2 separate regions of the Homo sapiens genome follow, and region 1 is linked to region 2. Evidence: fine-mapped expression QTL. A gene starts in region 2. The other region holds a variant in brackets. All regions are shown on one strand. Distances are between the middles of the regions. Region 1 overlaps CSRP1 (cysteine and glycine rich protein 1). Region 2 holds the start of CSRP1 (cysteine and glycine rich protein 1).

Region 1 (16,038 bases), 23 kb before region 2:
ACAGAACATACTTTAGATAGCAAGGGTCTAGAGCAGCGGTTCTCAAAATGTAGTCTCAGGCCAGCAGAGTCAGCATCAGCTGGGAACTTGTTAGAAATACAAATTCTAGGCTCCACCCCAGACCCGGGTTTGGAGCCCAGCAATCCGTGTTTGAACAAGCCCTCCAGGTGATTCTGACGCCCACGTGTGAGAACCACTGGTGTAGGGGAAGGAGCACTCAGGTAGGAGACAGGACACCCATGTCCTAGCCTAAGCTTGGTGACACCTTACACAATCACTTCCTCTCTCTGACCTCAGTTTCCTCATCTGTAAAATGAAGGCTGTCAAGTTCTATCTTGCAGATTCAGTGCATATTTGAAAAAAAAAAAAAAGCCTGGCTAGTTTATGGGAGCTATGTAACCCCTGTATAGGCAAGAAAAGAAAACATCACTACTCCTTCCTCAACCTGTTCCCTGGATTCCTCAGGCCAGGTAGTGCCTCCTCACCTAGATGGGGCATGAAAATGGGTCTGTTCACAGCCCTGCTCCTCCCCACCCTGCTTCTCCCTTCAGGCTTCTGCACCCACCCTCCAATCCACAGGTCCCTCACTGCTCTCCTCTCCCTGGGAGCTGGGGGCTGGGAGACCCACTCCAGCTGACCTCTCCCTCAGACTTCTCCTGACCTGCTCGCACCGCTTTGATGTACAGCCCTTTGTTCCAGGACTTTGGGGTTTCCTCGGATCTCTGTTTTTCTAAAGGGAAACAGAAGGAAAAACCCTACCAAGGTTTCAAGTCTCTGATGACTTGGGTTTTATGGGCACCATTGCGACAGACTTCAAGTGGGCAGCAACTCTGCAGCCGACCCGCCCAGGCTTGCTCCTGGGCCTGGCTCTCTCAGTGGAAATCCCCTCCCACGCTCAGCCCTTTAATCACTTTCCAGCCCAATAACTTTCCTGATTCACCAAGAATCCCTTTCGTCTTGAGAGCACCTACTGCCCCCTCTGATGGGGCTGAGTCTGGGCTTGAAGGCATTTGATCCCAGCGTGGGTCTTACAGAGATTGGACTTGTGGGCTAATGGTTCAGGTTGGGGCCTGCAGAATTTTCCTTTTTCCCATGCCATCTTGGCATCTGGGTGCCCATGTTGTAGGAAAAAATGGGCTGCCCTGGAATGAATCTCTTCCTTGAGGACACTTGACCAAGGGGCAATGACACTAGGAGGAGACTGACTGATACCCAGGAAACTAGTGGCCTCAACCAATATGCCAATAATAGCCATGAAACCCTTGACATAAAAGTTGCTTTCTCTTTTCTTCTAGTAATAATGTGCTTTAAATGCAAGTAACACTTGAATACATTTTTGTTGCAAAAGATTCAAAACATGACAGTATCTTTTCACCACCCTTCTAGTCCCCCAACCCCAGAGACAACAATCACTTAGCTTGGTTTGGGTCTTGCCAGATATTTGTTTTTACTTTTCACACATCTGCACCCAGACTAGTATAAAGCAGCATTCTCAATGGTAATGTAAGGGAGTTGGTTGAAGGATTCGTAAGTCCCCTTCCAGCTGTGCCATTTTCTGCATTTGTGGGTGGCTTTTCCCTCTCCTCCTAAATAGGAGACATTCATAGGCTCTCCCTAAAAGTATGGGGGGAGGGGGAATGCACAGAGGAAAATAGGAAAGGAAAGGTCACAGTGTCAACAGCAGTTCCTTCGAGGTGAGGAGATCATGGATGAGTTTTTTACCACTTGCCTCTGATTTTCAAATGTTTCATCATGAGAGTTATAAAGATTATTATTCGTGAGTATGACTTTGATAACAGGGAAGCTCCTATGCAGTGCCATTGTCAAGATCAGGCAGAGAAGGAGGCTGTGAGTTGTCCAGCCTGAGGCTTAGGTCAAGGAGAAATTAACAAATTGCTCAAGGCAGAGGGGTGTGTGGAGGGGCTTAGGGAGGGGAGGAAGGCTCATGGCATATTCTTGGATGTGATCTACAGGAAGATTCATAGAAAGGAACTTCAGAGTAAATCCCATTGTGTGTGAATTAAGAATTAAGTATTCTTAATTCTTAATTCAGGCCCTGGGCTAGACTTTAGGGACACAATGGCAAATGGGTGAATCAGAGTTCTCTACTTAACAGGGACTAGCAAAAGAAGGGGAGGAAGAGTTCACATCTTTAGGAATCCCACCCTACTTTTGCAAGAAGATATTCCTTCCTACTGAAGAAGACCCCAGAGTTAAGCATTAGATCTTTGACAGGCTACGATCCTGACTTTGTAGAAATATGGTCTCCATACTTGACTCGGCCTATCTAAGGTGATATTGGTATGTGTACTAGTTAGGATGGGCTAGGTTATGCTGTGCTAAGAAACTCCTCCCAAACCCAATAGCTTAACATAGCAAAGGTCTTCCCACTCATACCATATGTCCTACTTGAGCTGGCAGGGGAGGTATATCTGCTCCTTGAGATATACACATATCCAGGTTGCTGGAGGTTCCATCACACCTACTTCCACACTCTCCACAACAGGGAAAAGGGACATGAAAACTTACATCGTGCCTATTAAAGAAGTCTGCTCAGATGGCCAGGCACGGTGGCTCACGCCTGTAATCCCAGCACTTTGGGAGGCTGAGGCAAGTGGATCACCTGAGGTCAGGAGTTCAAGACCAGCCTGGCCAACATAATGAAACTCCGTCTCAACTAAAAATACAAAAAAATTAACTGGGTGTAGTGGCAGGCACCTGTAATCCCAGCTACTTCAGGAGGCTGAGCCAGGAGAATTGCTTGAATCTGGGAGGCAGAGGTTGCAGTGAGCTGAGATCACGCCACTGCACTCCAGCCTGGGCGACAAGAGTGAAACTCCATCTCAAAAAATAAAAAATAAAAAATAAAAAAAAAGAAGTCTGCTCAGAAGTGACACTTCTGGTCTCAATTAGAGGCCACAGCAAGCCACATCACCACATCAAAATTCAAGGGAAGAGGCCAAATGTAACCCTTAAATGTAAACGTAGATATTACTGTGTGTCCAGGAATATCTGTGAACATCTCTTAAAGGACTAGACAGTGTGATTGCCATGGGACTGCTGGGTACCCAGAAGGCAGAGCCACAGAGATACCTCTTCACTCCTCCAGCAGGGAGCAACAATCCCCCTTGGCCTGGGACCAAGACCTTGAACTCTCTTGAAGAGTCAGGTTGAGGTCAACAGAGTGGAAATGTAGAAGGTTCAGGAGCAGGTGCTTCTGAAAAGGAACTAAGGGCTTGTCCAGGCATGGAAAATGCCCACTAAAGGCTTTATTCACGATAATCTGCTTCCTGAATTTTCATGGCCTTTAGGGTGAGTCTTTCTAGGCCCATAAACTCAGGACATCAGAGTTGGGTGGATCCCCTGAAGCTTGGCTGTTCAAGTGTGGTCCCAGGATCAGCAACATCAGCACCACCTACCCCTGGGAGCTTGTGAGAGATGTCCAATTTCAGGCCCCACCCAAAACTAGAATCTGCATTTTAACAAGATCCCCAGGAGATTCATATGCACATTAAAGCTTGAGAAGCATTTCCTCAGAACTAATTTAGGCCAACGTCTTCACTTCGCAAATGAGGAGCCGACACCCAGAGGGGAGGAGGCAGGCCCAAAGTCACAGAGCTGGTTCCAATCCTGGCTCCACCACTTGCCAGGGACTTGAGTAAGTCTCTAAAATTCACTGAATCTCGGTTTCCTCTTATATAATAAAGGGATAATATAATTACCTCCTAGTGCTTATATGAGGATCAAATAAGAAAACATCTAGACCAGTGCCAGGCACATAGTATGTGCTCAATAACTGTTAGCTATTGCTATGGTCCTAACTCACCATTCCAGCACCAGGCCTCATACTCCCAGTACATAATTGTCTCCTCTTAAGGCAAGGATGTTAGGTATAGCACTGCAGCGATGGGACCTGGACCCAGCTGCCTGCATTTATATCCTGCTCAATTTGACCTTGAGAGGGTTGCTGAATTGTTCTTTGGTTCTTGGCTTCAGTTTGATCAGTTATAAGTGGGTAAAATGACAGCACCTACTTCATAGGGCTATTGTGAGAATTAAATGAGTTAATGCATTTAAGGTCTTCAAACAGTCTATAGCATATATTAAGCACACGAGATGGATGAGTAATGTGACAATTAAGTGAGTTAATACATTAAAGGTCTTCAAACAGTCTATAGCATATAGTAAGCACACAAGTTGGATGAATAATAATGTTTCCAAAATGTCCAAAAGAAGACTAGGTTGGAGGAAGTTGCACCCTAGAAAGGCAGGGGACAGGCGTTTCTCAGGGGGAGCTGCCTCTGTTTTTTCCCTTTGACCTATTGCAAGTCCCCAGTCTGTTTCTCTGGCCACTGGACGGCCCCCAACCCCTGGCTGTGTTTTTCCTCCTCCACTGGACTCACTGGGCTCCCTGGTGCCTCCATCAGGAAGCGCTGAAAGGCCAGGGGATCTCTGGTGGGGAGGGGCGGACTCAGGCAGCCGACAGCTGTCTTCAAATCTCTGAAGCGCTGTCATGCAGGAGAGGGATTAGACCTGTTCTGGATGACTCTAGGGGACAGAAATAGGAAGTTCCAGGAAGTCCTCTCTAATCATTAGAACCGTTCAGAGGCAGCCCCAGCTGCGGGGCGGGGCGGGGCGGGGCGGGGCGGGGCGGGGCGCGGAGCTGTTGGCAGCTAAGTGGTTGAGGTTGAGCGGCCGGGTGGAGGCCGGCACCTACTAGGAGGCTGGGCTGGTCCGCAGGTTCTCAAGCCCGGCTGAGCCCGGGCAAGCGTCAGAGAATCACCAGAGCAGCTTGTCGAATACAGATTCCCAGGCCCCACCCAGGCCAACCGAATCAGAATCTCTAGGGGTGGGGCTGGGAATCCATTTTTAAAGGCTTCCCCAATGATTCTCAGAATAAAGGTTGGGCTTGGAGGCGGGGCCGGGGCTGGGCGTGGCACGGAGGCGAGGCGCGGGGAGGGCCGGACCTTCCAGTTGTTAATCCCTGTGTTCCTCACTCCGCCACACTCACCTCCACTGATCTAAGTCGGGGGATCGTTCCTCGCTGGGTGCCCCCCTCACTTGATCTTAGCCAAAAGGTCGAGAAGCGATTGGGAGCCCCTCTCGAATAATTTCTGTGGCCCTTGATTCAGGGATCACTCCCACACTTAATAGCAGCTCTAACGCCCCCCAACCCCCGCTACCCAAGATCTCTATCCTCACCCTCCAGTCGGCCTCGTGGTCTTCCTGTCCCTCCCCAGCCTCTCAGGTGACCCGGACAATTTGCTAAGGCTCTTGGAGAAGGGCAGCCCGAGGAGGCTGGGCCTGCCGCCCATCGGGAGCGGCAGCTATTTTCCATCACATCCTAAAAAGCCCAGGGCTCTACCGCTCCTGCAGCTGGGCATAGCTCCCACCAAACACATTCTCCCGAGGTCGCCCTGGACGCCTTGCTCGGAGATGACAGAAACGAGAAAAGAAATACCTAAGTGGACATAAAGACCTAGCTCACCCTGGCCGGGTGCGGTGGCTCATGCCTGTAATCCCAGCACTTTGGGAGGCCGAGGTGGGCAGATCACCTGAGGTCGGGAGTTCTAGGCCAACTAGCTTGACCAACATGGAGAAACCCCGTCTCTACCAAAAAAATACAAAAATTAGCCGGGCGGGGTGGCTTATGCCTGTAATCCCAGCCACTCAGAGGCTGAGCCAGGAGAATCGCTTGAACCCGGGAGGCGGAGGTTGCGTTGAGCCGAGATCGCACCATTGCACTCCAGCGTGGGCAACAAGAGGAAAACTCTGTCTCAAAAAAAAGAGTCCTTGCTCACTCTTTGGTGAGGGTTTGGTATTCCACAGGGCCCCGAAGCGCGACAGCCCTCCAAGGAGAAGTGAGCGTCGGGGATTAGACGCGTGCGCTGTCTTGCGCAGGAGCTGAGTCCTCAGGGTCCACAGAGAGAGGAGGAGGGCGTGGGGTGCGCGGAAACGCAGCGCCTGCCTTTTGCCCTGACCCCACAGCACCACCTGGTGTCTCCCGGGACGGCGCAAGCGCCGCGCTTGCAGATGCTGGGCCCCCTCCCCGTCAGCCGACCCTCCTTCCCCAAGTGCCTCCCCTGCCTGGTGTTCCTCCTTCCTTGATGCGCCCCTCTGGCTGGCCCTTCACCGTCCAGTGAGTGCTTCCTGGCCTGGCCGCAGCTGGCTTACAGCCTACTGCCTTTACCCAGGTCTTATTCCCAGGAGGTGCGTCAGGGCCCCTTGCCCACCGTGGGGCTGCACTGAAAAACAGTGGCCCGGGAGCAAGACAGCTAGTGGTGCAAGGCACAGGACGGTCGCCGACAGGCCCTCCCGATCAGCCAGCAGAGGGCAGCCTCTCTCCAGCTTTGGGCCCCAAAGGCTCCCATCCGGGCCACTCCTGTAGGCCCCTCCCAGACAGAAGGGTCCACCTGGGTGTGTGGAACCAGCCGTCCTCCTGGCTGCGGAAACTTGTCCGGAGCACCTTTCGTGGGCCACCCCCTGTGCTGGAGCCAGAGGGGTTACCAAGATGGAGCCCTTGACCCCGATTGCAGAACTCCCAGCCAGAGCCCACCCTGGGCTGGCATTCCCTGAACTCCTCCAGCTCTTCTCCCGGTCATCTTGTACTTTTCTATTGCTCTGCACCATTGATGGGTGTTATGCATGCATAGGTGCCTTTCTCAGAGTCCAGGAGGGGCCTCTGTCAAGGCCACTGTTGGAGCTGGTCATCTGGGAAATAGGTACACGAGGCCTTGTTGTTATTAAAGCATCTGCTTTTGTTTTGAAAACTTAGTGTGGGCACATTTTCGAGAAGGGCTGAAGCAAAGCAGCACAGCCCCAACGCATCAGGCAGGTATGCCTAAGATGAAGGATGCCGCAACCCCTCACATGAACCTATTTCCAAAAAAAAATGTGGCCTTCCACGGACTTGCTGTGGGGGCCCTAACAGCACAGCAGGCTGAGCCAGGCCCCTCCACCACACCCCTCCTAGGTAGAAGTGAGCTTTCTAGATTTGACGTGAAAGTTCCTCTGGTTGAGTTTCCCTCTTAGGCTGGGGCTTTCCGAGCTGGGAGAAGTTCTGAGCACAGTTTTGGGGCCTAGCTGAGCCCCTCCAAGTCCAAAGTCCATGCAATTCCCAGGCCCAGATTTGGGGGTGGAGACCAGACAGGACAAGCCAGTGGTGTTTGGCTGGTCGGGTCACTTCAGACAGTGTGGTTCAGTTGGCATTGATACTGAGAAGTAATTGGTCCTTAGAAAAAGCAGGAACGAATCCACTTTGATTCATTTCCACCAGGCTGCCTGCTTTTTTTTTGAGACAGAGTTTCACATTTGTTGCCTAGGCTGGAGTACAATGGTGTGATCTCAGCTCACTGCAACCTCTGCCTCCCGGGTTCAAGCGATTCTCCTGCCTCAGCCTCCCAAGTAGCTGGGATTACAGGCACCCACCACCATGCCTGGCTCATTTTTTGTATTTTTAGTTGAGTCAGAATTTCACCATGTTAGCCAGGCTGGTCTCAAACTCCTGACCTCAGGTGATCCGCCTGCCTCGGCCTCCCAAAGCCCCTGCTAATTTGATTGCTCCCATTGAGTTCCCTCCCAGCTCCACAGACACAGGATTGGACACCAGAGTTCTGGTCTAAACAGCTTTATTGACCAGATGAGAAATCAGCTTGGGTACAGCCCATGCCTGCAGCCCTTTCAGTGGGTGGCTCCAGATAGTGTTGTCCTTTCAGTTGCTGGGAGCGGTGAGGCCCAGCCCTTTCCCCTTCCTCCCACCACTATTCCTAACCTGGGGCCTGGCAGGGGTGGAGTGATGTGATCTAAGGGTCCCTGGAGAAGGGTGGAGTGGAAGAGGCAGGGTCTTGGGTTAAAGGGAAGATTCTGAGGTCTCAGGGCAAAGGGAAAGGTGTTTGGATGAAGACTGAGGCAGTGCCTACCTCCCTCCACATCTGAGGATCAAGCAGGTGTGGCAAGAACAGAGCCCTGGCCTGGG[C/A]TCTGCTGGCCGCAGCCTCAGGAGCCAGGGTTAAGGCCAGAGATAAATGAAGATTTGAGCCATTGATAAATGCCAATATATGTTTCAGGTATTTCATTAGGATCCTCCCATCAAGCAGGGAACTAGATGTTTGAGAAGATCAAACAACATCCTGACTTTGGGGTCCTTAAGACCTGGGTTATTCTCCTCCCAGTCCTAGTGGGAGGCTATCCATTCCACAAAGACTCAAAGGCAAGAGGCCTGGAGAAGCAGGGGCTCCTAGGACCCTGCCTGCATGCCTCTCTGCCTCCAATAGTGACTCCCTAAGCTGGGACTCCTCAGGCTTACTCTGAGGGACACCAGGAAGCTCAACCTCTTTCCCACAGAGGAGAATCTCTGAGATCCAAAAAACCCAGCCTTCCCCCCTCCTCATCTTGGTCTTGCTTCCCTCTCCCTCCAGCCTGTTGCTGCTGCTCCTCTGGGTGCCAAGATGTGTCCTCAGGTGTCTTGGTCAGCTGATGATGGACACGCAGCACAGGAGGCTAAGAACAGAGCTCTGTGGGGCGAGGTGTGGGGAGAGGGGCCTGCTCTCACCTAGACCCAAAACACTGAGGTCTCCTACTGGTGATGGTGTCAGATCCCAGGCCTGGGGAGCCCTTTAGTGGGGTGGGACCTCAGGCAGACCCCCAAACCAAAGGGAGCCAGATGCCCAAGTTCAAGTCATTAGTGATATGTGGCAGGGCTGACAGAGAAATAATCCTGGAGGTCTCCAAAGCTGCTGGGAATGGAATGGCGATGAAAAGCGCAGGAGTGGGCAGGGTGTGGTGGGTGATGGTGGCCTCACTCAGAGTGGACCAAGGCCCCAGCTCCTTGCCCAAAACCAAAGCCCTTGGGCCCGAAGTTTTTAGCATAACATCCTGCAGAGAGAGGAGAGAGATAAGGGCATGTTCTTCCTCCACCCCCAGCCACACCACCCACCCTCCTGCTGAAGATCCCCCACTCCTAGTGCCCAGCCAGACTGCTAGGGAAGGAAGGTCCACTGGTACCCCCTCACCTCCACAGCACCCCAATCTCAATAGTAAAATAGCGAAGAGGCTCTTGGTTGTACCCTGTACCCATTGCCCCTGCCACCAAAATTATAGAAGCATCATCTGCTGTAAGAACATTGGACTGGGAGTTAGGAAGCCAGGGTCTAGCCCTATGCCTGCCTCAATTTGCCAGATGATGCTGGCCAAGTTGCTTTCCCCCTCTGGTCTTGTTTCCTCATCTGTACAATGAAGGAATCATACTAGATGTTCAGATCTTGGATCCCAAGGCCAGGAATTAGTTTACATTCAGCAAAGGCAAAACTACTTAGCCCCCCTACCCCCTTGGGCCTCCTGACCCTCAATTAGAAGTGAAAACACCCACCTTTGCAGTAAATCTCGCCATCCTTGTCTGCCAGGGTGGTTGACTCAAGGCCTTTGCCACACTTGGCACATCGAAAGCAGGCCTTATGCCAGGACTAGGCAGGGAAGGAAATAGTTAATGGCTGCCACCAGTGATGAGGGTACCCTCCACCCCAGGCCCACTCCCTTTGACATAACCATGGTATAAGGGCTCAAGCCACTTCTGAAGTCTACTCAGCTGGTGCTGCTGGGAGGACATGGCCTATGGTGCAAGGCAGTAGAGGGAGAAGGCCAGGGACCACACGCCACCTCGCACCATCTTCCATGCTATGTTGCAATGGCCTGATGATTAGGGTCACCAGCTATACCACAAAAGGCAGGTGAGGGGGTGGGTTTAACACCAAAGTAGCTGTTACCCCACTGGCTGGGCCAGATGAGCCTTCTCCAGACCCATCTTGCCAGTAGATCAGTGGTGTGAGCCAGGGCTTTGCACTCCTCCTGGTACTGTCACTTAGTACTTGAACAGCCCTCACCAGAAAGACCTCTCTGCCCTGTGTTGCCTTGGGGCCTCTCATAGAGACCCAAAGGGTCTTCTGTGGCCCCTGGAGAAACTACTCCTTAGGACTTTCCCTGCTGAGTTTAATGCATTTCATAGACTTATTCTCCTTCCAAAGTGATACTAGACAACATTGACTCTGGCTTCCTCTGTGCCAGGCCCTGTGCCAGGCACTTTACACTGGTGAAGTCAGTTAGTGTTCACAGCTACCCAGTGAGGGACATACTGCCACCCTCCCCTCCAATAGCTGATAGCCTTTGGGCAAAGGAGGCACCTAATTCTAGAACTTCAGAGGCTGGGCTGGTCCAGGAGAATCCAATTACAAATACCTTCTCTGTGGCCAGGCATCATATGTTTAAATATCTAGTCCTCACATGCATTCTGTAACACAGGGCAAACAGCTGTCCCAGAAAAAAAGTGAGGCCCGAGTTTGTACACAGTGATGGGACGTTGCACAGACAGACTTCTCCGCAGCCAGTTCCCATCAACAGCTGGGCAGGCTAAGAGGCTGATGTGTAGACAGCTCTGCTTAACCCAGGAAAAGCAAGAGGCAGGCAGCAGTCAGATAAGACAAAACAAGGCCTTTTAAGGGCAAAGACACTCCCAGTGCCCAGGCTGGTGGATGAGAAAGGAAATTCATCCCCTCAGATTTCCTGGTTGCCTAACCTTGCACATTGGCTTCTCCTCCAGAGAGCTGAAATGGGGGGACCTGGGTCTAGGTCAGTGCTGGTGCAACCTCAATAGTCACCCAGCCTTTGCTGCCTCCTCTGTAAAGCAGGGGCTGCTACCCCAAGCTCTCTAGGCTGGAGAAAAACTGAATCACACCTAGACCAACACCTCTCCTCATATTTCCTAGCCACCTCCCTGCCAAAATAAGCTGAATCCCTTTGCTCATTCATAAGCACCCAAAAGTACTCCCAGCTCAACATTTCTTGAGCGAGGCAATAGAAAGGTGGGGCTTCTCCCTACCTTTTCCACTTGAATGCAAAATTCTCTTATCCTACTCCTTAGTACAGCCCTAACTTTACCTTATAGCCTGCCTAAGTAATGGAAATAGTGATTCTTAGCTATTCTTAATAATTTTCTATTCTCATAATGAGATAGAACAAAAAACCCAACTTAATAATAATATTAATGTCTCCTGTTTTCATATCCTTTAGTCAATGGCAAGGATCTTCATTGTGACCTCAAAATAATCCCTGAAAATAAACAACAATAATAATAACAATAGCAAAACTGTACTGAGGACATACCAGGCACTACATTGCACATTATACATGTACTATCTCATTTAATCATTAAAACTGCCTTGTTGTTGGGTGTGGTAGCTCACACCTGTAATCCCAGCACTTTTGGAGGCCGAGGTGGGTGGATCGTGAGGTCCAGGCTGGTTCAAGACCAGCCTGGCCAACATGGTCAAACCCCATCTTCACTAAAAATACAAAAATTAGCTGGGTGTGGTGGCGCGTGCCTGTAGTCCCATCCACTTGGGAGGCTGAGGCAGGAGAATCACTTGAACCCGGAAGGCAGAGTGCTAAGATCGCGCCACTGTACTCCAGCCTAGGTGACAAGTGTGAAATTCTGCCAAAAGAAAACAAAAACAAAAACAAACAAACAAAAAAAAACTGCCTTATTTGTCAGGGGCCATTACTTGGTCCACTTTGCATTTCCTCCACCATCCAGGCCCACTTTAGAGCTGAAGAACTGAGGCTTAGGAAGGCTAAATTTTCCCAAGTTCGCTCAGCCAATAAATGGCAAAACTAGGATTCAAAGCAGGCTGTCTAGAGTCCAAGCTCTTAATCACCGTGCTAGGATCCCCTCCCATTTTGCAGCCTTGGAAATGGGTTTGAAGAGGCTAAATGGCCCAAAGTAGCATTAACAGTAGTAACAGCAGTAAGAGCAAGGGCTTCGGAGTCAGACAAACCTGGGCTTGAGTCTGGCTTAGCCCCTTCCTAGCTAGCGGATCTGGGCAAATTATGTAATCCTCCTGACTCCCAGTTTCTTCATCTGTACAACAGGGATACTAATCCCCATCTCTGTCCAACCATGACTGTGAGAGTAGAGATTCTAACACTGGCCTAAGTGTTAATTGTTTAACATTTCTTGATCAATTCCCCTATCCCATTCCTCAAGGTCAAAAAGCCTTGAAAGCCAAAACCTGAATCCAGAAGAGATGAAGATGGGCTCCAGGCCCAGACATTCCATAACCTTGTTGTGTGATCTTGGCCAAGTCACTTTTCTATCTCAGGCCTCACGTGATGCTCCAGAATTCCTCTCTGGCCCCACAGCTGAAAGACATCTCTTCTGTGATTTTCTGACTGCTAATCTGACACTGCAAACCCCAGGGGCAAGAGTTCTGCCTCTTCTCTACTGCAGCCTATCTGAAGGAAGTGATCAGCTCAATTGGGAACTGTTGATTTGCTACAGTGATTCTCACTGTGCATTGGTGATTGGGGGCTACTGTCAGAATATCATGGGGGAAGGGCATGTGCGGCAATTCTAAACAGTGTGAAAAAAGCCTCCTAGGAGGCTCTGGTAGGTCTGAACCTTGAAAATCTCTGCCCTGGGGGTATTTGGATGGGTTTTTGGGAGTCCACATCCCATGAAACAGAATGTATATTTTTGGGATCACAAATCCTTTGAAAATTTAATAAAAGCTATGGATCTTCTTCTAAGAAACAGACAGGTTCCCATGAAACTTTGTATATAATCTTCAGGGCTTTGTGGACCCTCTGCAGCCCATCCACGTACCCTTACTTTCTGTTCTCCTATATTAGAGATACAGATTGATCATTGCCACTCCCTATGAATTGCCCATTGTCCATCAATGCTGGGGATGTTACTGCTCATGGCTGATATGAGCTCCTTGGAGACTGGAAAGCACAGGTACATGCAACCCACAGGGACAAAGAGAAGAGGTTAAACCCCAGTGCTCAGGCTGCCCTGAGCAGAGCTAGGTCACCAATTTAAAAGTTCTGGAATCCACATTTCAGGAAGATATCTCCCCCCATCCCTCTCATGCCCAGCAGCCACCTTACCTTCCCAGCACCAATCACCTTCTCCGCAGCATAGACTGCCTGGCTGCATCGGGGGCAGCGCTCGGAGCCACCAATCTTCTGGGCAAATTTGGATGCATTGGGGTTGGTGGTGGGCCTGTGGCCAGGGGCTCTGCATGGAGAAGGGCATGGGGTGAGGTGACTTACACTGTAAGTACAGGTGGGGCTGGCACTGAGAGGGCATGACCCTACCTTCATCTCATGCCAGAGCAGCGCGCAATTCTCTCTGCCAAAGTCACAAAGGCTAGGGCCTCTAGGGTCATCTCCCATTTTACAGATGGACAAACCAAGCCTCAGCACAATGTTATTTCCATTGTAACATCATACTTCCCTCGGTCACCCAGTTAACCCCAGAATCATTTAACACCCCATTTGCTAAGAATTGCCCTCCTCTGCCCCTCATTCCTGCAGCTGGTCTATTATCAGATTCTTTACAGGAGAAATCTGCTGATGAATCATTCCCACTGGGGCAATGACCTTGGCTGAAACTTGGTAATTCATCCATCATTTCCGTCCACCCCCCAGGCCGAGGAGCAAGCCAGGCTGACTGCCAACAGCCACCATTTACCCAGAGGCCAGGGAGTGCCGTGGGGTGAGGGGGGTGTGGTGGGGCTGATGACACCCTATGGCATTTCGAAGAAAGGGAAATGACTTCTTCTCAGTAGTGAGAGATAGCAGGGCTGAGACAGTGAGGCTGGTGTGGCAACGGTGCTGCCCTGAGCCCCTGATCTGGCTCCGACACTCACTAGCCGTGGGACCCCAGGCAAGTCACTGAGCCTGGGCTGGATTTTCTCATCTATAAAAAGAGGAGGCAACATGGTGAAACCCTGTCTCTACAAAATACAGAATTAGCTGGGTGTGGTGGCACATGCCTGTACTCCCAGCTACTCGGGAGCCTGAGGCAAGAGGATCACTTGAGCCCAAGAAGCAGAGGCTGCAGTGAGCCAAGATTGTACCACTGCACTCCAGCCTGGGTGACAGAGCAAGACTCCCTTTCAAAAAAAAACAAAAAAAGAGGAAATTGGACTAAGTGATTCTTGGGGCCCCTCCCAGCTCTGACTCTCATACAAATATAGAATGCACGCTCCTTGCAGGGAGGAGCCCAGCCTGTTTTAGTCCCTGCTGCATCCCCAGCTCCTGCAGCAGCCTGACACATAGACACTGCTCTGTGACTGCCTTTTAAATAACTGGTTTTCTGAGCCTTCCATTGCTTACCCAAAAATGGTTGTAAATACACATGAGGCCTAATACAGGGTGGGGGAGAGAGCTCAAGAAAAAGGTTGGGAGGGGATCTTTTACTCACTCCTCGTGCTTGATACCCAGCGACTCCCCCTTGTCAGTGCTGAGGGTGCCTGCGCCCTGCCCGTAGCCATAGCCTTTGGGCCCATACTTCTTGCCGTAGCAGGACTTGCAGTAAATCTCCTCACCATGCACGGCCACAGTGGTACTGTCCAGATTCTTCTTGCAGACCACTGTGGAGGGGAAGGGGAAGCGGACGCATTGAGTTGAAGCTGGGGTGACCTTCTTGCTCATTGCAAGCTTCTTACAGCTGAAGCTCTCTGGCCTCTTTGCATACATAATATCCTGATCTTTCAGGAACTGTCTACAAATGGAGGCAGGCGGGATGGCCAATGGGTGGGAGGACAGAGGGATGGGATCTGCATATCCGACTCTAGAAATGCTGGCCAACACCAATTCCTCTTCCAGGAATCCATATGTGTCTCCTTTGGTCCTCTGCACCCCTAAACTTCCTCAGGCTGCAGTGCAACACAGGGTTCAGAGGCAACAGCCTAGGCTGACCCCAAGCCACAGGACGCCTGTTGAGGTTCCTCACTCTGCCCTCAACAGAGACCATATGTCCCAATGGGGGAGGAGGAAAAAGAAAAGAAGGGCAGTTTTCCTGCCTTCAACAGTGGAATCCAGAAGAGACTATCTGTGCATGTTGGCAGGGAGCCAACGGGGGGAGATGCAGGTGATGTGATACCCCATAAGAAATGTTTAACATTTATTAAGTGCCCAACATGGTGGGCTTTGAAATGGGATGCAGCTCATGCTAATCACAAGAGGATTTGAAGTTTCTAATCTCAGAAATCACTTTACCACAGGAAGAAGTGAGGGTCAGACACAGAAGAACTTCCTGACTCCTGGGGTAAGAGAGAGTGGAACGGAAGGAACTAGGGATTGCAATGGTCTGAGCTGGAAAGGCTGTGGGCCTCATATTTCGTCCTGTTAATCTCAGAGGGGAGCTATGCCCAGCTATCCAGAATAAAACAGTTTGGGCTGGGTGCAGTGGCTCATGCCTGTAGTTCCAGCAGTGGGAAGCCAAGGCTGGAGGATTACTTGAGCCCAGGAGTTTGAGATCAGCCTGGGGAAGATGGCATAACCCTGTCTCTATTTATTTAAAAATAAATAAATAAATAAAACTTTTAAAAATAAAAATAAAGTTAAAGCAGTTCAGAGCCTGGGGTCATGAAGAGTCAGACTGCCCAGAATCAAATCCCAGCTCTCTCCCTTTCCAGCCATTTGCAAGTTTTTTTTGCCTTTCCAGCCTCTGTGTCCTCATTTGTAAATGAACATAATAATGTCTGCCCCAAAAGCTGGTGGTGAGAATCAAATGAGATCTGACATGTGAAGTACTTGGCATAATACCCTGCATACAACAAATGCATAATAAATGTTGGCTACTCTTATTAGTATTATATAAAGTTAGTACCATCGGGAGACAAGGAAGTGGGAGGGACAGGCCCCAGCTTCAAGAGATCATTGCTTCTAACTTTCACATACTCCTCTCAAGAGATTCAACTGCATTCTTTTTCTTTACTTGTCCTGTAATCCTAATTCGGTTTGATCATATTCCTTAAATATTGGAGTTCAGCATCTCAGTTGGACGCATCCTCAAACATGTCCTGAACATAGAAACCGAGGGATACCACTGGAGAAGCCACGCCTTTTACCACCCTCGGAGAAGCTCTCAGCTCCTTTCCTTGCAACTGCCATCCTCTTGCCTTTAAAGGGTCCATCCCTCTGCCAGCTCCTCTCTCACCCTAAGCCCCAGGTTGGAGACTTCAGACTAAATAAGGACCC
Region 2 (16,038 bases):
AGGAACAGCAATCAGCAATGTGTGTTATGGTCGGCCTGATCATCGGCCATTTCCCCCTTCTTCCTTGCTACAAAACCCCGATTTTATTCAGGCCATTGAATGACTGGGGAGATGCCCCTTCCCCAGATGGAGGAACAGAGCCTCTGTCCCCTAAGCCAACCATGGAGATTCCATTCCCTTGCCAGTGGCTGGATCAGGAACAGGCTGAGACCATTTCTGGCCAGTGAGATGTGAGGGGAGGTCTGCTTGGGAAGCTCTTGTGAATAATGTATCCAGTTGTACAGACCCACACAAGCTCTCTTCTCCCTCTGATAAGGTGACTCAATGTGACCCTTGGAACTCAGCCATGGCACCCACACTGCCATGGACTGAATGCCTACTATGCATCAGATGGCTCATCTGCATCATCCCATTTCTTTATTTTTTCAAGATGGAGTCTCACTCTGTCACCTAGACTGGACTGCAGTGGCACAATCTCTGCTCACTGCAACCTCCATCTCCTGAGTTCAAGCAATTCTCATGCCTCAGCCTCCTGAGTAGCTGGGATTATAGGCGCCCGCCACCACCACCATACCCGGCTAATTTTTGTATTTTTATTAGAGACAGGGTTTCACCATGTTGGCCAGGCTGGTCTTGAACTCCTGACCTCAAGTGATCTGCCTGCCTCGGTCTCCTAATGTGCTGGGATTATAGGCATGAGTCACTGCTCCCAGCCACATCATCTCATTTCATCCTCATCATCCGAAGATAAAGAATGTATGCCCACCTTACAGACAAGACAAGCAAGGCTCAGAGCGGTTAGGCAAGTTGCTTATAGTCACACAGCTGGAAGAGATAGACCTGGGATTCTAATGCAAGCTCATCTATTTCTGAATCCTCTGGGTCCCAGTCACCATGCTGTGGCCCTTGCATATTTAAGAGGGGCTGCTCATGATAGGCATACAATACATCAGTGCTGGCCCTCTTCCTCGGCCTTCTCCTTTTCCAACCCCCTGAACCAGCAGGGGACATACTCAGGCCCCTAGGAACACCCCTAAGGGAGGAAAATTCCCCTAGCCACATGGTTGGGAGCCAGTTCCAAGCACTGTTTTGTTACAGACACAAAAGCCCTTCTCCCTCTGGGGGAGACCCACAGCTCCATACAGGCCTCCCCTTGTTTTCCCTGGCTCCGTGTCAGGGGCCCACATCCAGCAGGGCCCCAGGGAATCAAGAACATGGGCGGAGAAATGGGTGAAACCCAAGGACCTGCCAGTAAGGAAAATCTGCTCAGGACGTCTCTTAGCCAGGCTGCTCTTTTGAGCCTGGTCATTTAGTTAGGGCGAGGGTGGGGGGTCTCCCCTCAAGAGCCCAGTGAAAGGACAGGGCTCTATTGCCTTGAGATGAAAAGTGATGACTCTATCCCTAGCCAGGAAGGGTTTCAGGCAGTGCCTGTGGATGAGGTCCTGTCCCCCTCTGCCCACAAGAGGACCCCTCCAGGTGACCCTGCCTGTGGGGAAGAGGCTCAGCTGGAGGGAACCCTGGCAACAGGCAGGGCTCAGTCTTCACTCCACCTCCTCCCTTTCTGCCCTTCTCTCCAACAGCCAAATTCTGCCTGTAGGGAGGCCGAATTGCCTTAAAAGGAAACCTGTTTCTCAGAGTTCATGGAGTGCCTTAGAGGGACACTTGGCTCCTTCTTAATTGCCTTCCCAGCTCTCCGGCACAGAGGCCCTGCAGAAGGCTGGGACAAGAGAAGTTCCCAAGGTCAGAGTTCAGGCTGTACAGGTCAATGGTTAGGAAAACAAGAGCTGGGATTCGATCAATATGGATTTACCCCTTCCTAGCTGAATGATCTTGGGCAAGTTACTTTCCTTTCTGAGTGTCAATTTGCTTGTCTCTAAAATGGACCGTATATGGACTCCCTAAAATTCAGCTGTAAGGATTAAATGAGGAGGTATGGAAGTGATGGCCAGCACACTGTAAGTGCCCGCCCCTCTGACTACCACTCACACGACTGGACCAGTCATACGTCGACTCCACACTGCTAGATGTGGGCCAGCCATCCACATGTAGCTAGTCCACATATGGAAGGAGCGAGGCTTAAGAAGTACCATGCCAAATAGGGCCAGGAACTCCTGATTCATCTGCTAGCCCAGCGAATGAGTCTGGGACAAGTTACTTGCCCTTCTTTGGGGTTTAGCTCCCCCCAGCTGTCTGTGATGTCCCATTTCACTCTGTTGACCATCTCAACAGAGAACAGAGCTTGAATTTTCTACTGAATGGCTGGAAACACCTGGTCAGCTGTTTTCCTGAAACGGCTGGCGGCTAGAAGCCTGCTGTGTCTGCTGCTGCATCTTCCTAGCCTGGCTGTCCCATTAGGACTGTACCCAGATCCCCAGTTAGGACTGTACCCAGATCCTCAGCCTTGAGACAAGAAAGCCAAGGTGGCAGCTCTTACAGCAGCAGCAAAAGGAGAAGAAAAAGGTCACAGACTCTCAGTCACCCCAAATCTCATGAAAGTCAGGCTCGGCTGGGTGTGGTGGCTCACGCCTGTAATCCTTGCACTTTGGGAGGCTGAGGCAGGCGGATCACTTGAGGTCAGGAGTTCGAGACCGGCCTGGCCAATGTAGTGAAACCCCATCTTTAATAAAAATACAAAAATTAGCCGGGTATGGTGGCGGGCACCTGTAATCCCAGCTACTCCGGAGGCTGAGGCATGAGAATTGCTTGAAACAGGAGATGGAGGTTGCAGTGAGCAGCGATCTTGCCACTGCACTCCAGCCTGGGCAATAAAGCAATACTCAGTCTCAAAATAAATAAATAAATAAATAAATAAATAAATAAATAAAGTCTGGCTCAGGTGACAGGTTGAAGGAACCATCGCAGAGATGTAAAATCCCTAACTGCCAGCCACCAGTGTCTGAAGGCAAGCCCCTTCTTATCAAACCCTTCAAAACCATCCCATATCTTTATTTCTACAGTGGAAAAATCCCATCTCTCCCATTCCAAAATCATTTATTCCCTAGGGCCAAAGAGTGACTGACGGCACAGGGTTAAAGTCCCCATCCACTTGCTCCAGTAGAAACCTGTCAGATGTTTATCTAGCTCCCTCGCATTAGCTGAGCTGCTTGGTATCTGCCAGGTGGACAGGAGGGCTGGCATCCCTTCCAATCTGCAGCTCGGCTTTTGCCTCCACGCCCCAGTGTCCAGAGAGCAGCTGAGGGCAGAGAGAGGAGGGGGCTGGGCTGGTCAGGGCTCAGAGCCAAGTCTTAGAAGTGACACCTGAGAGCTCAGGAAATCAGCCTCTCCTGAAGCTCAGGGTCACGGGTAGGGGGAGAATGGCTGCCATGGAGATGGGGCAGGCTTGGCCTCAGCTTTCCATGTCCCACCTCATGTTTCCTTCAGAACCGTGCACATGACCCGCCTCTCTGAAAAGGTAACCAGCATCACTGAGCTACCATCAATCCAGGCCCCATGGGCCTCCAGAACTTGACTGTCATTCTAGGTCAGGAATCCTTCTCTCTATTGAATGAGCTTTCTCTTTTCAAATCCATGTCCAGTGGCCCTTGTGAGACTGTGAGCTGACAAGGGCGGTATATGTCTCTCCCTTTCCCCACTTGCCCCCAGTGCCTTCTAGAGCAGAGCTCCCTACTCTTGGAGTTCAGAAGTTTGCAGGGCGCAGTGGCTCATTCCTATAATCCTAGCACTTGGGGAGGCTGAGGTGGGTGGATCATTTAAGGTCAGGAGTTTGAGACCAGCCTGGCCAACAGCGTGAAACCCCATCTCTACTAAATATACAAAAAAAAAAAAAAAATTAGCTGAGTGTGATGGTGCACACCTGTAATCCCAGCTACTTGGGAGGCTGAGGCAGGAGAATTGCTTGAACCCGGAGGCAGAGGTTGCAGTGAGCCAAGATCGTGCCACTGCACTCCAGCCTGGGGGACAAAAGCGAAACTCTGTCTCAAAAAAAAGAAGTCTGAAGGTCAACACAGGTAGAAATGGAGGTCGATGACTTCTTTGTAGTATTTCAAAACTTCTACAGGAAATCCTGTATTATAATAAAGCCTCATAGACAAATTAACAGATGGGGTTTCCTTGCTTTTATCCAGATCTGTAATGATGTTGGTTATTCCATGCTGAACAAAATGGTCTGAATGATTTTTCTTTGATTAATTTTTTACAAGTTAAAACACATTAGCACTTAGGCCTTAAAAACACAGGTCGTTTGCAGCTGACATCCCAGGAAGCACCAACACACGCCACCCCTGCATAAAGAAAGCCAGGCACACAGTCGGGGGTAGGGGGTGCTGGCTGCCTAGCTGGGGCTGAGCTCCAGCTGCTAACCTTCCATTTCTTCCCCTGTTGTCACCGCTGAAGACTCAGACGCTGCCTTCTGGCCCTGGGGAAGCACTGGAAATACCAGAGTCTGGAAATGCTAGCTGCCCCCGTATTTACACACTTTACCATACATGGGAATTACTCAGTGCTGGCGTCAGACACATTCCTGGGTAGCTGCGTAGTACAGGCACGTCATTACCATATAAATTCTTGACAACTAGAAACAGCAGTCGGAACCCAGGACCCCTCCACCTCACCTTCTCTGCCCTCCCCTCAAGTTTTGCTAGCTCTCTCTTTCTCAAGCACGCTCTTTTCCAGGCTTGTTTTCTTTCTGCAAACCTGGCTCTGAAACTCAAACATGCAGAGCTGGTGAAAGCATATCCATTAGTGGCTGGGAACTAACTCTCAGGGGTCCCCTCTGCTCCTACCTGGCCATGCAACAGACTGAAAACCCGGAGGTCAGGAGTTCTAACCCTGATCCATCCAAGTGAAAGATATCTTCCTTAAATAGTTTATAAGCCACTGTAAAGCACCTTGTAAAGCTGATGTGTTTCACAAATGGCAGATATTTCCTTAGTGAGTTGATCTGGAAAAAGGAAATGTAGAGGAGCAAAGAAAAATAATAAGGTAGTGACTGAGCATACGTTTTGGAAACAGTCAGCTTATGTTTGAATGGCAGCTCCACAACTGATCAGCTGTGATCCTGAGCAAGTTTCTTACTACCTCTGAGCCTCAGTTTCTCCATTTGTAAAATGGAGAGCATCAGTAGCTACCTCATAAATTGTCCAAGATAACACATGTGAAGTATTTCTCACACTGTCTGGTACACTGCAAGTGCAGATATCTGGTTATCCTTATCTTAAGGAGAGGCCAACTCTAACACTTATCGTTCAGGTTTGTATCTCTTTTGATATTTGACAATATGCCCTGAGTAATGCCAAATGGCTGACTTGGAGGAAAAAGTCTTATTCTCACTAGCACCTCTTTGGATCCCAAAATATTTAACGCATGTGTCTTCATCTAGCAAGCCAACGTTTCACAATAAGCTAGGCTTACATACATATTTAAAACTTTAACAACCTGCCAGAAAAGCCTTCCCAATTTGCTTCCCACACCAGGGATGGACAGTGAATTAAAAACTATGTTGCTAGGCGCAGTGGGTCATGCCTGTAATCCCAGCACTTTGGGAGGCTGAGATGGTGGTGGGGACAGGGAGGGGATCACTTGAGGCCAGGAGTTCGAGACCAGACTGGCCAATATAGTGAGACGCTGTCTCCAAAAAAAAAAAAAACACCAGGCCGGGCGCAGTGGCTCATGCCTGTAATCCCAACACTTTGGGAGGCCGAGGCAGGTGGATCACCTGAGGTCAGGAGTTCAAAAACAGCCTGGCCAACATGGCGAAATGCCGTCTCTACTAAAAATACAAACAATTAGCTGGGCATATTGGCAGACACCTGTAATCCCAGCTACTTGGAAGGCTGAGGCAGGAGAATCGCTTGAACCCAGGAGGCAGAGGTTGCAGTGAGCCAATGTCACGCCATTGCACTCCAGCCTGGGTGACAGAGCAAGACTGCCTCAAAACAAAAACACACAAAAAAGCCCAAAAAAAACCTACGCCTTTTTTCTCTCACCTGCTTGTCAATCTACCCAAGTGGAAAAACTGGCTAGTAACTATTTGCAAGGTTTATGAGTATCCCGTAGGCCAACTCAGCTGAAAGACCATTGCTACCCCACTCATTCATCAAATGTTTGCTGATCACTCAGTCAAGTGTCACTACACTCCCAGGCTGCAACTCTGGCCCAGTCAGGACTCACTAGCTCCAGAGGCAGATGCACATGTGTGCAATTAAAAGAGCAAACACCTGGGCCAGGAAGGCAGGTGCTAAGACAGACCACAGGCAAATAGGCCACAGCACCCCTGTTTTTCCCATTTTATTAGCAGGCCAATTGCAGAGTTGATGGGCCTTCTCTTTAGTTTCTCTCCTGCTTCTTCTTCCCCATACCCTCCATCCTGGGCATCTCAGGCCTTGCAGACAGTTCTCTCCTCCCTCTCCTCTAACCCACACTACACCCTCTGCAGGATAAACTTCCTTCCTCGTCTGACTGCCTCCGCCCCGGATATCCTCTCCAAGGCAAAGAGTCATTCACTGGAAGACCGTGAGCAGGAGGAGGCTGGATTTAGGAAACAATGGGTAAAAGCTGCCCTCCAGCAGCTGAGGGCTGAGGACAGTCTCTCTCAAAAGAGGTAGCCAGAAACCAGCTGGAGAGTCAGGAGGCAGCAGTTGAGTGAGAGCAGTTGAGGGGAGGCTCAGTACCCATCCCCAAATCCCACCTGGGGAAAATCCCCAACATGCAGTCTGAGAGGACAGAGGGAGACAACCAGCACCTCCAGCCTCCTTAGCTTCTGGGAGGAAGGCAAGGGATGAGGGGAGGACAAGAAAGACAGTAACTGAGAGATCACTCCTGTGTTGGAGGTTCTGTGTAATATGCTCCCCAAGTAGCATCCCTGAAAGAAACTGAGACATTGAGAAGTTAAATAGTTTGTCCAAGGAAACCTGCGCGTTAAGTGGCAAATCCAAGAGTCAAAACTCTGCCTTCCAAACAATCCCACCAAGACTCCAAGCCACCTCTTCATGATATACTGATATACTTTCTACCAGGGCCCAGTGGATTTCCTCGGTGCCACTGTGATAGTATCCCAGCGTGGGGAGAGCCTGCCCATTCATTCACTCTCAGGGAGCAGCTGGTGGGTGGCTGGAGCCCAGGGCTCTAGGCAGAGCCTGAGCCCACTATTGCTCCAGCCGATTCCTGGGTCCTGGTTAGTTCACAACAGCACCAGAACCAGAAGCATGCAAAATATTCTCTAGTCTGTACCAGTAGATACAATACCTGCCTCAGAGGGCTGATTGTTAGCTAACACATTGTGATTTGCTTTAAATGTGCTCAATACCAGCCCCTTTATCACTTCCCAGCTTTCAAGGACTGAGGCCACAAAACACTGACTGCAGGCTCTTTCAGGTTTCAGTAACCATCACCACCTAGCACCAAGATTTGGAGTGGAGAGGTTTCCATGCAGTTATTTCACAAGAGGGAAAACTCACACCTGCGCTCAGGGACACAGATGTCCAAGGTCAGGCCCAGATGTTTGCCCCACCCCGCCCGCGGGCATTTTCTCCCCAGCAGGAGGGTGAGGGAGGGGGTGGCACGGATGCCCTCATCTCTCTGCCATACAATGAGCGTCAGTGGCGCGCAGAATCGCCGATTGTTCTGCCCGACTTGCAGGCGGTTGCGGGGAGCCGGGTCGCCCTGGGTCACGCACACGCGGAAGTCAACTGTGTCCAGGAAGCCCAGGAAGGCCCGGGATGGGGACGGACCTAGTGCCTCCAGAAAAGAGCAGCACTGCCCGGGCTAACTGCGGTCACTTCTCACAGTTCCCCGCCTGCGACAGCCCCGGGGCTGCGGCGGGGCTGGCAAGACCGGGAGGCGCTGAGTGCGTGCCCAGGCGCCCCTCCGCGGCGGGCAGAGCCGCGCGACTCAGGGCGCACTCACCTGGCAGCTGGCTCGGCGGCGCAGGGGCGGCAGGCGCTCTCGGAAGTGGCGGCTGGGTGCGCCCGGCCTGCGCGCCGTTTTGTTCCGCTCCGCGGAAGGCGTGTCCCGGGCCACGCCAACCAGTGGGCTTTGCACACTGCACCACTCCAGGGCTGATGTCATGGCGCGAAGCCCGGCGGTGCTGCCCTCCTAGGCCCCGGGAAGGCCGGCCGGCAGGGGCGGGGGCAGGAGTCGCCGACTCTGGGGGTGCTCCGAGCTCGTGCTGCGGTCCCACTGTGCGCCCTGTCGCCGCCACCGCGGAAAACGTCTTGCACGTGCGAGGGGCATTTCAGGAGTTTCCTGTCTGTCAGGTGAGAAGGCGGAGATATGACCTTAGAGGTCAGACCCATGATAAACTTGAGCCCCTAACGAAAGGGTGTCTCGAATTTACTTGTCCTGGTGGCAGAGGGTGAGGGACACATTTTGGGCGCCAGGGTAAGACAGACCCTTCCAGGGCAGGTCTGATTCTGCCCATCCACTCACTAGCTGGGCCCTGGGCCTAGACAGCCCTTCTGGGTTCAGGGTCATCTGTGAACGGCGTGTAATCTACAGGGATGTGAGGGGCTAAAAGGAGATCCGGTAGGACCCGCAGACCTTCAGCAGCACCCGGCATGTAATAGACACTCAATAAATGTAACTCCCCCCTCCAACAGCTCTTGCCCCTCAGTTTTTCCCAGTCTTCCCTGCTACCCTAAGGACAACACCTGGAAAAAGGTGTTCTCCCGCAAAAGCAGCAGTTCTGAAAAGTGGGTGCCTCCATAGAGGCTTTTCTCTGGGGCTCCAACCTTCAGTAGGACAGACACAGGCTCAGGCCACTCAAGCTGCCCCTGGGGCAGTTTCCAGGGGACATTCTGTCCACACCTCCTCACCCAGTCCCCAGCCCTTCCTGAGTGCCCCGTGCAGGCATTTCAGGGAGCAGAGAAGCTCACAGCCTCCAGCTGGTCACCCTACACCCCAGGTGGCCCATAGATGCAGCTGCTATGTCTTCCACCCTGGGCAGGTGTCAAGGGTTCAGGCCCCAACCGGCTTCACTTAAAGCCCTGGTTTGCTGAATCAACTTTTTGCCAGGAATAAAGTTAAGCATCTTATGATCTAGAAAATGAAGTATTTGGCCAGGCACTGTGGCTCACGCCTGTAATCCCAACACTTTGGGAGGCCGAGGCAGGCAGATTGCTTAAACCCAGGAGTTCGAGACCTGGTGAAACCCTGTTTCTACAAAAAAATTAAAAAAATTAGCCAGGCGTGGTGGTGTGTGCCTGTAATCCAAGCTACTCGAGAGGCTGAGGTGGAAGGATCACTTGAACTCAGGAGGCAGAGGTTGCAGTGAGCCAAGATTGCACCACTGCACTCCAGCCTGGGCGACAGAGCAAGAGTGTTTCTCAAAAAAAAAAGTGTTTATCTAGGTTTTTCTTGCTTTCTACCATAAGTAACATCTTTCCTTTGGCCAGGTCCATCCTATAAACAAGGCCCTCCAAGATTAAAATGTCTAGAAGCACACAACCAGTGTTTCTTGCAGATTGGGCCATCTTCATCTGACCCAACCAAGATGAAGGAGGAGAAACCAGAAGAATTTCTGGTCACGGCTGCACTGACTAAGCAATAGTTAAACAGGTCCATTAAACTGCAGAACCACCATCAGTGTCAGAGACCAAGGGCTTCCGCCCAAAGATGGCGATCCCATGGGATTTCCCCCTCTCCTTTCAATTCTCAGTATCTTGGAGAGATGAGCCTCGGAGTTTTGCCCAGGATTTTACAAAAGGGCAAACTCCTACATTACCTTCTTTGGTCTGGGTTTGTCCTCTCTGGAGTCATGGGACTGTTGATAGATTTCCCTGTGAGGACATGCCAACCTGTGCTGTGAAATGGCTTTAGGGTAGATCCAGAAAAAGAAGAGCAGTCACTGCAGTCACACTTGGATTTCTCCCAGATCTTAAAGCACCTTATAAACAGAATGGCTGTACAATGTGTCATCTAAACCAGAATGCTTTGGATAGTAAGTGGTATGTGGTAGTATTCGTAACTACACTAAGGCAACAGGACTATCTCAGGCAGTCCAGGGCAGATGGTCACCCCTCTTTTCCACCCAAAGACTGTCAGGTCACTTGTCTTAGGAGCTGTCTACGCAGAGCTACAGATGAAGCCAAGTAGGACCTGCCTTGTTTGGTGTTTTTCCAGAACCTCTCACCTTCTGACTATATTATTCTCCCAGCCTGCTGCCAGTTACTTGGGCTTGGTCTTAGATAGCACATTTGCAGATAAAGAAGACTTGAGGGATGAGGAAGGGCTTTGGGATTGAGTTGAGTCAAAGGTGATGCTGGGGTTACCCACCATGCAAACAGGAACAAGCCTGATGTTGAAATGACAGAAAAATCAGTAAACATCATCAATACTTGGGACATCCTTAAGGCAGAGATTCTCATTCTGCAGAGGTTCTCATTCTGGCTGACCTCATTTATATAACCATATCTAGACTGGCCCGAGCTGGTCAGCAGCACCCACATCTGCAGAGACAATGCAGTCAGAGCTCATCACCAATAAATTATCTGCTAGGGGTTCTAGAAGGAGGCTTGGCACACTTAGGGGCTTACCTGCTTCTCAGGACTCTCACAAATGTCTAACCTTTTCAGTATCTTTATGTTCTCTCTGTGCACTCTATTTCCCAACACTTCTGGGTTGGTATTTGATGGCTGCTAGGAATGAAGTGGGGCCTGTTACAGGCAGGAAGTAGGGCCCCTGTCCTCCAGCTTCCAACTTTGTCTGCTGCTTCCTCTGGCATCTTTTCTTCTCTTTCCTCCCTCATCAGCATCCTGATGCTACATCTTCTCTCTCCTCTCCTGTGGTGAAACCCTTCTTTTCCGCATTGATCCCAAGTGAAGAGGACCTGAGTGTGAGGCTGAGGAAAGAGTAAGGGAATGTGTCTGGCTTAGCTCTGCTCATCATCCCAGAGAAATTAGAGATCCAGTCTGGGCTGGAGATCTTCTTGTCCATCCTTCCATCCATCTGTCCATCCATCCATTCATTCATTCACCCATCCATCCATTTGTTCATCCATCTGTCTCTCCATCCATCCATCCCTCCCTCCATCCATCCATCCATCCATCCGTCCATCCACCTGTTCATCCATGTATCCATCCAACCATTCACTCAGAAGACATTTATTGGGGCCCCACTCTGTGCTGGTCTCTAGGTTCTGGGAATACAAGGAAGCCTATAATTTGGATCCTGACCTCAAGAAGTTTACTCATCTAATGGTCTAAAAAAAGAAAAAAAAAATCCAGCCCTAAACTTGCAGTTTGAGTCTCAGCTCTGTCATCTATGATTTAAAATACTAATGATGGCTGGCGCAGTGGCTCATGCCTTAATCCCAGCACTTTGGGAGGCCAAGGCCAGCAGATCACTTGAGGTCAGGAGTTCAAGACCAGCCTGGTCAACATGGTGAAACCCCATTTCTACTAAAAATAGAAAAATTAGCCGGGTATGGTGGCATGTGCCTGTAATCCCAACTACTGTGGAAGCTGAGACAAGAGAATCGCTTGAACCTGGGAGGTGGAGGTTGCAGTGAGGCGAGATCCAACCACTGCACTCCAGCCTGGGTGACAGAGTGAAACTGTGTCTCAAAAAAACAAAAAACAAATAAAATACTGTTGATAATGAGGAATAATTATAATTATTAAGCATTTACTACCTGTCAGGTACTTTACACAATTGTCCCCTTTAATCTTCGCAGTAGCTGTATGAAGTAAGGACTATTTTTACCCCCTGCTTTGCATGTGAGGAGACCAGGGCTTACAGCAGTAGCTAACTTAGTAGCTTTGTGACCATGGCCTAGGCCTCAGTTTTCCTCATGTGTGAAATGGGAGGTTGGACTAACTCAGTATTCTCCAAAATTTCCACTGAGGTACCTCTGACAGCAAAGAAGTAAATGTAAGGAACCCACAGTGTTGTCAGAATCAATCCACTCCCAGTCCTTGAAGTCTTGGGGTTTATTGCAAAAATTTATTTGAATTTTGCATTCTCCTTGGCACATAACTGTATTTGTCTTCATAAAAAGATAATGTTTAAAATGACTCACTGGCCAGGCACGGTGGCTCACACCTGTAATCCCAACCCTTTGGAAGGCTGAGGCAGGTGGATCATTTGAGTCCAGAAGTTTGAGACCAAGTTTGGCAACATGGTAAAACCCAGTCTCTACAAAATATACAAAAATTAGCTGGACATGGTGGCATGCTTGTAGTCCCAGCTACTAGGGACGCTGAGGTGGGAGGATCGCTTGAGCCCAGGAGGTAGAGGTTGCAGTGAGCCGTACTATACTCCACTGTACTCCAGCCTGGGTGATAAAGTGAGACCCTGTCTCAAAAAATAAATGAATAAATAAATAAAATTACTTACTGTTCAGAGAAATGGAGTTCTTAGGAAATGTATCGTGCTTGGTGGGTAGTATCTCTGTGGGCCCCTGGGAATATGACTAGGCCCGCCTACCCACGTGGGTGATCTGCAAGGCTCTCCCTGGCTCTGGCACTGTTCGGCTGTGCCTAGGCTAGGATGAGGCAAGTCAAAGGGGGCTTGTGGAATAAGGCCCAGCATTTGCTTTCAGTCCCTGTATTCATGTTTTCTAAGGAAGATTCCTAGAATCTCTCAGGGTTTGCTGGAGAAATGAGCTTGGCAGCCAGAGGCAAATGAAAATCGGAAAAGGCAGTGTATACATGTTATAAGAATAAAATGCTTAGAGGCAAGAAAAGGAGAAATCCATTTAGAAAGGAACAAAATAAAAACTCTAGGGGGTTCCTGATCCAGAAATCTCTTCTGATTTTCAGGCTGAAATTTACACTGTGAAGCTCCAGGGGAGCTTGAAAGGTGATATTCAGAAATGCACTGGGGTGGCTCAGGGTTGGGTCCTTAAGAACACTGTGAAACAGTCTAGATAGGTTTTTAAATGACCACTTCCTCTTCCCCTCCCCTTGGCCTGAAATTGATGTAAGGTCACTTCCCTCCTGCTCCCTCTGCAGCCACTGCCTCTGTCCCAAACAGGCAAAACTGTGGAGTGGCTCTCACAGCCAAAGTGTGGGGAGGGGAAAGCAGGAGGAGCTGGGGACTCAGGGCGGGAGCAGGCGGCAGGGAGCTCCCGGGCAGCTGGCTGTGCATGGCTCCACTGTTCCGAGCCTGACAGGCTCTAGGGAAGTGTGGCCACAGGGAGCTGGCTGAAGGCTCAGGAGAGGCTTTTCTGACAGGCCCAGTTCCAATCACGCCAGCTCCTAATCTACTGATCAGTTTGCTTTCCTCCTGCTTTAAAATCTCTTTCTCCCTGTTCTCCTGGTCCCTAGCCACACCACCTTCACTGCTCTGATCTTATCTATGATCACCTGGCCAATCTACTTAAAGCAGTGAAGTAGACTGAAAATAACCAGACTTTCGGCAAAACTCTTTTTTTTTTTTTTTTTTTTTTTTGAGACGGAGTTTCAGTCTGTTGCCCAGGCTGGAGTGCAGTGGGGCGATCTATGCTTACTGCAACCTCCACCTCCTGGGGTCAAGCGATTCTCCTGCCTCAGCCTCCCAGCCTGGGACTACAGGCATGCGCCACCACACCCAGCTAATTTTTGTATTTTTAGTAGAAACCCTGCAACACGGCGTTTCACCATGTTGGCCAGGCTGGTCTCAAACTCCTGGCCTCAGGTGATCCGTGCACTTCGGCCTCCCAAAGTGCTGGGATTACAGGCGTCAGCCACTGCACCCGGCCTTGGCAAGACTCTTGACTCCTCTCCTCCATCAGGGTCGATTATATTAAATTACACTGACAGAAGAAAGGATTGGATGACTTTTGAAGAACTATTTCAACCCAAAGACAAGCTAAGGAAACATTGAGTTCACTCACCTGGAAGGTCTTGGAGGGCAGGAATTGTAGCTTACCCTCCTTTGTAGCCACACAGAGCCTTACATGGAGTAGGTGCTCAGTATTTTATGAATGTGTGCGTGGATAAATCCATAGTTTGCAAGAAACCACGAATAAGCTTGCCACCTGCTGGTGAACTTGTGAAAGACACCTCGCCGCACCTCGGCTCCCCCAAGTGGCCATACACTGTAATCCTAAGAAAACCCTCAGCTTGGACAATCCTTTCTTTCCAAGGAGCCCTTTGTTACAGGAAGTCCCAATCCAGACCCCAAGAGAGGGTTCTTGGATCTCACGCAAGAAGGAATTCAGGGCAAGTCCATAGAGTAAAGTGAAAGCAAGTTTATTAGGAAAGTAAAGGAATGAAAGAATGGCTACTCCATAGACGGAGCAGCCCTGAGGGCTGCTTTTTGCCCATGTTTATGCTTATTTCTTGATTATGTGCTAAACAAGGGGTGGATTATTCATGCCTCCCCTTTTAGACCATATAAGGTAACTTCCTGACGTTCCCATGGCATTTGTAAACTGTCATGGCACTGGTGGGAGTGTAGCAGTGAGGACAGGTCACTCTCGTCGCCATCTTGGTTTTGGTGGGTTTTGGCATCCTTCTTTACTGCAAGCTGTTTTATCAGCAAGGTCTTTATGATGTGTATCTGGTGCTGACCTCCTATCTCATCCTGTGACTTAGAATGCCTTAACCGTCTGGGAATGCAGCCCAGTAGGTCTCAGCCTTATTTTACACATCCCCTACACAAGATGGAGTTGCTCCAGCTCAAACACCTCTGACAACTTGATACTTATTCATAAATCCTTTTGACTCTAACTCATATCCTACATTCTTAGCAGAGAAGCCAAAAATGTCCTAGGACACTAGTCAGTGAAAAAGGCCTTTGAAAGCCCTGGAAGCTGTTTTGCAACTCAGGACCCTCTCTTCTCCACTGGTAGATGTTCTCTCCCCAAGATCCCTTTCCCTATCCTTCACGCATCCAGACAGAGAAAGCCTGTATTGAGCACCCACTATGTGCCAAGCACTGGGCTAGGTGCCGAGAGATATGAATGGAGAATGGAGACTTTACAGGGAGGGGAGAGCTGAAGTGTGCACCCAGATGTGGGAGAGGAGACTGGCACAGGAAGAGCACCGGGAGTTCAGACAGGGAGAGAACTCCATTGTGGGGATCAGAGAAGGCTTACATGGGAGATGACAGGCTAATGAGCTGGGCCATAAAGGGTGGTTAGGCTCATAATGTATGGAGATGGACAGCATTCTGGTTACCTATTGCTCTGCAACAAACCACCCCAAACTTGGTAGTGTAACAGAGCGGTCATTTGTTTTTCTCTCTCATGGTTTTAGGGTTTTCCCAAGCTCAGCCGATTGTTCTTGCTGGGATCTCTCCTGTGATTACAGTCAAATGAGAGCTGGCTGGATTCTTCACTGAGTCTCCCTTACTCCTGTGGCTGGAGGCTGATGCTGGCTGTCAGCTGGGACCTCAGCTGAGGCTGTTAGCCAGAACCCCTACATGTGGTCTCTCCATGGGGCCTGGACTCTCTCACAGCATGGTGGCTGGTTGCAAGGAGAAGCATCCCAAGAGATAGCAGGAGAAAGTTGTCTTGCCTTTTGAAAACTGGCTTCGCAAGGCCCATAGCAGATCTTCCCCTGTGCTCCACTAGTTGAGACAGTCACGAAGCCCCACCCAGTTTCAAAGAAGGGGACAGAGACTCCATTTCCTGATGTGTGAGTGGCAAGGTTCTGGAAGAGTATGTGGAATGGAAAGCATTATTGCAACCATTTGGGGAAAATACAACTTGCTGCTGGCAGGAAGGTCATTTCAGGCAGAGATCTTCATTGATGGTACCTTCAGAAATGCATTTTTAGGAAAGAAAGTGGTTTTTACAGACTTGGCATTGCTAAGGGAAAACATAAGGTTTTAGAAGTATTTACTGAGCCATCTTCACCAAGACTTATGAGAAACATTTCTTCGAAGAGAAGATGCTGAGGAAGAGGAAGATGACTTTTGAAGTGGACTCCAAGGGGCAGACAGGAGGCTGGGATGGATGGCAGCTCACAGCTGGCAAAGGCAGTGGACTAGCAATCATGGGTGAAGGCCTACCAAGACTGATTCTTAGAGGGGGGAGAATTGACTTTGTGTTCTTATAGCAAGTGACCAGGAATAACCAGATGCTGTGTCCAAGCTGAGTCCTCAAAAACAGTAGTAGGCAGGGGCCAAACCAGAAAGCAACAGTTAACAAAAACT

What was found. PIP is the estimated chance that this variant, and not a neighbour inherited with it, causes the effect.
Region 1: its variant is fine-mapped to the expression of CSRP1 in whole blood (TOPMed, PIP above 0.99).

Annotation. Positions count from the first base shown.
Region 1 is chr1:201,475,919-201,491,956 of GRCh38, forward strand. CSRP1 (cysteine and glycine rich protein 1) reads right to left here. Exons shown (of 6, transcript NM_004078.3): 3 at 14,258-14,426; 4 at 12,937-13,066; 5 at 9,365-9,458; 6 at 7,612-8,871. The coding sequence ends at 8,795. Among named protein-coding and RNA genes, the nearest start is that of PHLDA3, 15 kb to the left of the region's middle. RefSeq lists a silencer at 4,600-4,689 and an enhancer at 7,070-7,399. The variant C/A (reference allele first, on the strand shown) is at 7,976.
Region 2 is chr1:201,499,207-201,515,244 of GRCh38, forward strand. It overlaps CSRP1 (cysteine and glycine rich protein 1), which reads right to left and starts at 7,917. Exons shown (of 6, transcript NM_004078.3): 1 at 7,864-7,917. CSRP1-AS1 (CSRP1 antisense RNA 1) reads left to right here and starts at 8,007. Exons shown (of 2, transcript NR_160747.1): 1 at 8,007-8,213. LOC124904484 (a long non-coding RNA gene) reads right to left here. Exons shown (of 2, transcript XR_007066793.1): 2 at 10,518-10,795. RefSeq lists silencers at 7,619-8,248, 12,780-12,859 and an enhancer at 13,010-13,219.